Linked DNA regions of Homo sapiens. The protein of the gene in region 1 interacts with the protein of each later gene in a pairwise test. Each region holds a gene or a part of one and is shown on either strand. Other genes may lie near its edges.

Region 1 (3,947 bases):
AGAATGCTAGGATTGTAGGTGTGAGCCACCGCACCCGGCCCTATGATTCATTTTGAATTATTTTTTTTTTGCATATGAATATTCGGTTGTTTTAGCATCAGTTGTTGAAAAGACTATCCTTTTTCCATTGAATTGCATTGGCACCTTTGTTAAAATCAGTTGACATGTCAGTGTTTCACTGATCTATATGTCCATCCTTATAGCAATACCACAATGGTTCTATTTCGGTAGGTTTATAGTTAGTTTTTTCCTCTAAATCAGGCACTGTTAGTCTTCTAACATTGTTCTTCTTTTTCAGACAATTTTTTAGATATTCTGTCTTGAATTTCCATAGAAATTTTAGAATCAGATTATCACTTTGTACAGAAGTCTGCTGAGATTTTGATAGGGATTGTGTTGAATCTGTAGATCAGTTTGGGAAGAATTGACATCCTGCCAATTTTTGAACATGGTGTATCTCTTTATTTAGCTCTACTTTCTCTCAGTAATGCTTTGTAGTTTTCATTGTATAGGTCTTGCACCTTAAAAAATTATTCTTATTTTTGATGTTACTGGGAATGCTATGATTTTCTTTGAGGTTTGTTTGTTTTTTTTTTGATATTATTATACTATGTGTGGAACCCTGCGTTGGGGAATATCCTCCTGCAACTACCAAATGTGACTGTAGTGAGCAAAGTCCTTCCTGGTTCTTCTCAGTAGTCTTTTTGTGGTCGTGCAGAAGAACCACCATATCCTGACTAATTGAGATGCAGACAGCTTAAGTTGTGAGAAAAGCTAGAATTCCAAAAGGAAGTGCTGTGACATAGTTTTCTTCATGTGTCACCATGACTTGTGTTCAGCTACGTACACTGAAAGGATGAATCTAGGAGTCCAGATTGTTGCTATAATGAAGACATTAAAAACCCGGAGCTGACAGATCACATGATGCAGTATTAGCATGTGCCAGAGGCTCAGTGGCCATTTTTTTCTTAAATACATGTGTGCATATACGTATGAATGTGTATGAATCTCTGTGTGCCAAACGCATTGTCTCCAGGTAACTATGAGTGGGCCACCCTAATCCAAGTTATGAGGTCAACAGTTTTGATTTGTGGCTCCAAAGCTCCCTTTTTCCTCCAGGGGGTGAAAAGCCCCCTCTACTTTGTCTTGTATTTATCTCTCTAAAAGAAAATCTACAGCATTTAATATACTTTAATTTTGTGGTTTATGTAACTAATTACATTTGGTATAAATGAATTTAACTGGGGTTTTATATTTTTCAGTTTTTGTCTTATTAAATCAGGAAATGCTATCACCTTTTAAGGGAATTTCAGGTACCTGGTGCTGGTGGTTGGAGAGGACAGGAAGCCCCCCATCACTCTAGCAGTACACTCAAGGTGAATCCTCGAAGTGTGCTTGTGTTGTCAGGAGGGCCATCAGGACGGCCATTCCCTGTGTTTCCCTTGTGAAGAGTGCCATGGTGGAGACTTGCCCAGCTACAGGTCACCTCAGACACTGCTGGTGGGAGAGTAGGAAACTCTTCCTAGCCTCCATCTTCTTCTTAGACTGGCACTGGCTTGCTGCACCAGGGCATGAATAGGACTCCCAGCCTTCACACTTCTTTTTGCCCCTCCTCCCATCTTTCCTACCTGGTCTTAGGTTTTAGGTTTTCTTTCCCTGTTTAGCTTCACAGATTGTATTTTATATTTACTGGCACCTTTGGCAATATTCTCATGAGGAGTTAAGGATACGTTTATACAGGATGAGTTTTTCTAAAGTACTTGTTTTTTTACAAATCCTGATGTCCAAGTGCCTTTTATTTGGTGTCTGCCTCTGGCAGATGGCGTTTTTTCAATGGAGTGAGCCATTTGGAGGAGGCAGTCTCCTGTCTTAGAAATGTTGCTTTCTGGGTAAATTGCTTTGTGAGGTTGTTTTTGTTCAGAAGCCTCGGTTGGTGCTGGTTCTGGGTATAGTTACTTGGGGCTTGAGATATTTCATGTAGTTACTTAAAGCAGATGAATTCAGCTCTGTGGGTTTATCAACCATAATGTGGTAGTATGTTCTTTCCTCAGATATTTCTCAAATATTTTTGCCTTTGAAATTTCTTTTGTAGATACAGATTATGGTTCTCTTAGGACTAGCTTTCATTTGCAACTATTTTCTATAATTATACATGCATTTCTTTAATAAATATCTTTGTGAAAGAGGAAATGTAATAAAGATATATCAAGGTTGAATGCTATTATTTATTTTTCAATTTTGTTTTGCTTTTAGGAGAAACTGGCTCTTCGACAGCAGTTGAATGAAGCGAAGCAGCAACTCCTGCAGCAGGCAGAGTATTGTACAGAAATGGGAGCAGCAGCGTGTACCCTCTTGTGGGGTGTCTCCAGCAGTGAGGAAGTCGTCAAGGCCATTTTGGGAGGAGTAAGTATGGTCAGTGGGCTCTCCAGATATTGTTGATTACTGCTTGTGTAAATTAGAGCATATAGCTTATTAAGGCATTTAAAGACTAAGTCCATATCTTTCCATTTTCTTTTGTTCACTCATCAGCTAGTTATTGAATACTTATCGTATATGGTTCATTGTAACCTGATGCAAAGGGAATGAAATAAGATCCCTTCTCTCCAGGAGACCTTGTGGTATATGTGGACATATTACCACTTCAGTATTAATACTTTACATGTGTTTAAGAAGATCAAAAGTGCTTTTATATATATTATCTCATGGTTAATATAGTATTTATTGAATATTGTGTTATCTAACATATATACATGTATGTAGATGTGTGTGTGTGTTTATACATACACACACACACACATACATATAGATGCAGAACCTTGAGCAACATGGAGGTTGGAGGCGCTGACCCCCTGCACAGTCGAAAAGCCACATAGAACTTTTGACTCTCTCTACTGTTGGCTGGAAGCCTTACTGACAACATAAATCGTTGATTAACACATTTTTTGTATGTTAGATCATCATGAAGGTCTTCCCCCTCATCATCTTCAAATTGAGTAGGCTGAAGAGGAGGAGGAAGAGGAGTGGTTGGGTTGGCATTGCTGTCTAAAGGGTGGTAGAGGTGGAGGAGGTGGAAGGGGAGGCTGGAGCAGCAGACACACTTGGTGTAACTTTTACTGAAGAAAATTCTTGTGTAAGTGGACCTGTGCAGTTCAAACCCTTGTTTTCAAGGTTCAACTGTGTGTGTGTGTGGCAGCGTGTGTGTGTGAGCATGTGTGTTTGAGCATGTGCATGTGTGTGTGACTGTGTGTGTGTGTGGGAGCATGTGTGTGTGGGGGAGTGTGTGTGTGTGGGGGGGGAGCGTGTGTGTGTGGGAGCGTGTGTGTATGGGAGCATGTGTGTGTGGGGGAGTGTGTGTGTGGGAGCGTGTGTGTGTATGTGGGAGCCTGTGTGTGTGTGTGGGGGGAGCGTGTGTGTGGGGGAGTGTGTGTGTGTGTGTGTGAGCCTGTGTATGTGGGATCGTATGTGTGTTTGTGTGGGGGAGCATGTGTGTGTGTGGGGGAGCGTGTGTGTGTGAGACTGTGTGAGTGTGTGTGTGGGAGCGTGTGTGTGTTTGGGGGAGCGTGTGTGTGGGGAGAGCGTGTGTGTGTGTGGGAGCGTGTGTATGTGGGAGCGTGTGTGGGGGGGGAGCGTGTGTGTGTGTGGGAGCATGTGTGTGTATGTGGGAGCCTGTGTGTGTGGGAGTGTGTGTGTGGGGAGCGTGTGTGGGGGGGGAGTGTGTGTGCCTGTGAGCCTGTGTATGTGGGATCGTGTGTGTGGGAGCGTGTGGGTGTGTGGGAGCATGTGTGTGTGTGGGAGCGTGCACACGCACATGTATGCATGCGTGCAGGCATTTGTCAGGGAACTTCACAGAAGGGGATAAATTTGAAATGGGCCTTGATGAATAGGTAGAAATGGCAGAAAATGGGTGGGTTTGTTTTAGGACAGTGAGTAGGTCAGTTGACACAGTG
Region 2 (3,600 bases), on another chromosome or scaffold:
GCTCTGGCTTCTCATTGAACTTGGGGGCAGTTTGGTGAAGTTGACAAGTGTCTACATATCCAGGGGCATCTGTGCTCACTTGTCCCCCACAGACCTTGGCCTTGGGTGTATTTTCTTCTTCCTTTTCTGTGTGTCTGTGTGTGCTGCCCTCTTCTAGGCTCTGGAACTAGCTGATGGCCAGCTGGACTAAGTGTGTCAGTGTCCACACACCTCTGGCATGTCCCAATACCCCCCTACAGTCCTGAGGCTTAGGCTAAGCCTTTGGCATTGGCTAAATCAGTGGTGACCCACAAGTCACATATTTTCTGAGCAGTTGAGAAAGGGAGACAACATCCTAAAACCAGAGATTCAGGAACAAAGGGCCACTCACTTCGTCTTCACTTTCTACTCAAGACAATAGAGGTTATAACAGTAATTAAAAACAATTTTTTTTTAATTGAGATGGAATCTTGCTCTTGTCCAGGCTGGAGTGCAGTGGTGCAATCATAGCTCACTGCAACCTTGAACTCTTGGGCTCAAGCAATCCTCTTGCCTCAGCCTCCCAAGTACCTGGGACTACAGGTGCATGCCACCATGCCTGGCTAATTTATTTTTATTTTTTGTAGAGATGGAGTTGCCCAGGCTGGTTTTCAAACTCCTGGGTTCAAATAATCCTCCTTCTTTAGCCTTCCAAAGTGCTGGGATCACAGGTGTGAGCCACTGTGTCTGGCTGTGATTTTTAAATATGAGAAAAGTGGGTCAGCCAGGAGATCAGAATCTGAGGTTGGGTCATGGGAACCAGCCCTAGAGTCTTAGCTAGACCTCAGAAGTCAGGATCCCAGCCTCACACCCACAAGCATGGCCAGAAAGCAAGGATAATTTAAATATATTTGTTCCTATCAACCAAGGCAATTGTTTCTTGATATTTGTGTAAAAAATTTAAATTCTACTCTCAAGGGTATTTGTCACTCAGGCTTTAAATGCCAGCTTTGTCTGCCCAGTTTAGACCCAGCCTGCATTCCTGACTTAGTTTACCCAAAGGAAACGGCTGATTTTGTCAAACTTGGTTCCCCCTCTCTGGCTTGTATCTCTGAATTCAACATGCAGACAACAAATCTATGGTGTGCACATCCACCCAACACAACTGGCCACCCATGGGTTTGGAGATGGGGGGAACAGAACAAACCTCTCTGTGTCATGCAAACCAGGGAACCTAGCAGAGCTTCTGAGACACGGTGGGAACACGTTTCACATTTGGAGGTAGGTTTATGGTTTACATTTGTTACAAGGTACTTTTGATCTCCTGGCTTACAACTGAGAAAGCTGAGGCCACGTTAAGGGATACACCCAAGTTCCCACAGCTGTGGTTGATTTGGAATTCCGACCAGCACCTGGGATTCCCAGGCCCACGTTCTTCCCAGCAGACCCGAACACCGGCAATTTCTGGGCACCCACCATCATGGAAGGCTGTATGGAGGCAGCTATGCGGCCCTGGTCTGTCAGTGTCTATGACTAGAACATGCTACCCATCATTGACTCATCTGCCTTAAGAACTCTTCCGCCTAAGTGTTAATATTTATCATTTACAGCCCGCCACTACCCCCTTTCAAAGGTGAACACAGTAAAATTTATGACAGGTGCTCTATCAGAACACAGAGGAACATAAAAGCAGGAGGAGGTGTGATAGCCCATCCATCTGCTGGAGCAGCTCTTCCAGAGGCCCGAGTCACCTGGAGCATTCTGGCATGGGGCTGCGGCCAGGCATTTTCCTCCTGGAGCTGCTGCTGCTTCTGGGGCAAGGTAAGCGTGCCTTTTGCTCAGAGGACAACCAGTGGTTTAGCCCCGCTGGTGTCCCATGTTGCTTAGGCAATGGGTGTGTGAGAGGAGTGTGTGCTTTTGAAGAGATAAAGCACAAAGCGTACAGTTCAAGAATAAGAAGTCTGGTTTGCCTCCTGCGGAATGGGATGCAGAGGCTGCCTACACAGGGTTACATGTCCCAAAGGCTGCCGGGAGCGAGGCAGATCTTGGGACAGGAGAGAAGTGCAGTCCGGTAGCAGTACCATGGTACAAAAAAAACCCCTGGATTCTATTTGTTTGTGCTTTGTGGCTTTGGGCAAGTTCTTCCACCTCCCTGGACCTTGATTTTTTTCATCCTTAAAATGGAAATACTACTACTATGCACATTTTGATCATTACTATTACCATTTATGAGCTTTGTTTTGTTTTTGAAGGACAAAGGAAGACAGATTTCCAGATGATAAATTCTAAAAGATTGCCTACATTCTTTAGTGCTGCTAAACAGAGTGCTGAGCTTTCATTGAACTGAGTGGGCAACCAGCCAGGGCTTTCCATTCCCCCCAACATTAATGACTGTGGGTAGATTGTGCCTCTGCCACAATCCCTCTCTGCCCCTCTTCTTCCCATCATTGGCTCTCCCTTTGCTTAGGAAGGCAGAATCTTTTAAACTGAAAAGGGCCTTAAAGATCTTTCATCTTCTCCAGATGAGAGGACGGGGTCTGGAGTGAGAAGGCACTTGCCCTTGACTCCCCAGAGAGAGTGGAGGAGGCATGGGACAGAGTCCTGGGCCTGCCTAGGGTCTGAGCCCATGCTTGAGGCTTCTCTGGGGCAAGTCAGTTACCGCTCTGAGCCGTGGGGGAGAATGACGATGCTTGCTATGCCTTCTGCACAGGATGATTGTATTTCTTTGATTACTGATGAGGCCAAGGAGTGTTTTCATAGAGATTGTTTGAGTTTCTCTTTTGTGAAGTGCCTGTTGAAGTCTTTTTCCTATTGATTTTTTAGGAGTTCTCCATATATGCTGTGTACTAGCTCTTTGGAGGTTACATATATGACAAATATCTTGTTCCACTCTGAAGCTTGTCCTCCTATGGGGACTTTTGATGAGCAAAATTCTTAATTTTGTGTAAATAAATGTAGACTACCCAAATGAGGACAAACAGAGGCTACTTATTCAGAGCTCGCTGTAGCGAGACATCACTTATGTTTGGCCAAGATTCAAAGGCAGGCAGGGGAGTGGGAAAGTTTCACAGTGGAAAAAAGGGAAATCTTCAGATCTGCTCTGGTTGGAGGTTGTTGGTATCAGGGACCAGCTGACTAGAGGCACGGCATCTGAAGTTATCCAGTTGGGAGTGTATCTGGCTTTCTCTGAGGGGTCCTGAGTTGGAAGCAGAGCAAAAAATAGAGAAGATGGCAGTCATTAACCAAACCTGACCATTCTGGGCTGATTGCTGCAGAGGCTGCAGTTTGGTTCTCTGGCCTGGCCGATTGCAGACTGTGGCTCAGAGTTCTGTTATCATATGTGGTCCCACCGTTGTCCATTTGTATATTCTCTATTTTTTTTTTTTTTGAGACAGAGTCTGGCTGTGTCACCCAGGCTGGAGTGCAGTGGCTTGGTCTCAGCTTACCGCAACCTCTGCCCTCCAGGTTCAAGCAATTCCCCTGCCTCAGCCTCCTGAGTAGCTGGGATTACAGGTGCCTGCCGCCGTGCCTGGCTAATTTTTGTATTTTTAGTAGAGACAGGGTTTCACCATGTTGGCCAGGCTGGTCTCAAACTCCTAATCTTAAGTGATCTGCCTGCCTCGGCCTCCCAGAGAGCTGGGA

What was found. Proteins that work in one complex are often made in the same cells at the same time.
Region 2: the proteins of HSF2BP (region 1) and PLB1 interact in binary tests that used the Homo sapiens proteins (3 or more experiments, as listed by UniProt).

What each region holds. Positions count from the first base shown.
Region 1 is NC_000021.9:43,631,728-43,635,674, reverse strand, and holds part of HSF2BP (heat shock factor 2-binding protein), read left to right. Parts: intron 1-2,253; coding exon 2,254-2,403; coding exon of another isoform or gene 2,404-2,412; intron 2,413-3,947. UniProt on the Homo sapiens protein: Meiotic recombination factor component of recombination bridges involved in meiotic double-strand break repair.
Region 2 is NC_000002.12:28,494,391-28,497,990, forward strand, and holds the start of PLB1 (phospholipase B1, membrane-associated isoform 1 precursor), read left to right. Parts: upstream 1-1,669; 5' UTR 1,670-1,724; coding exon 1,725-1,779; intron 1,780-3,600. UniProt on the Homo sapiens protein: Calcium-independent membrane-associated phospholipase that catalyzes complete diacylation of phospholipids by hydrolyzing both sn-1 and sn-2 fatty acyl chains attached to the glycerol backbone (phospholipase B activity).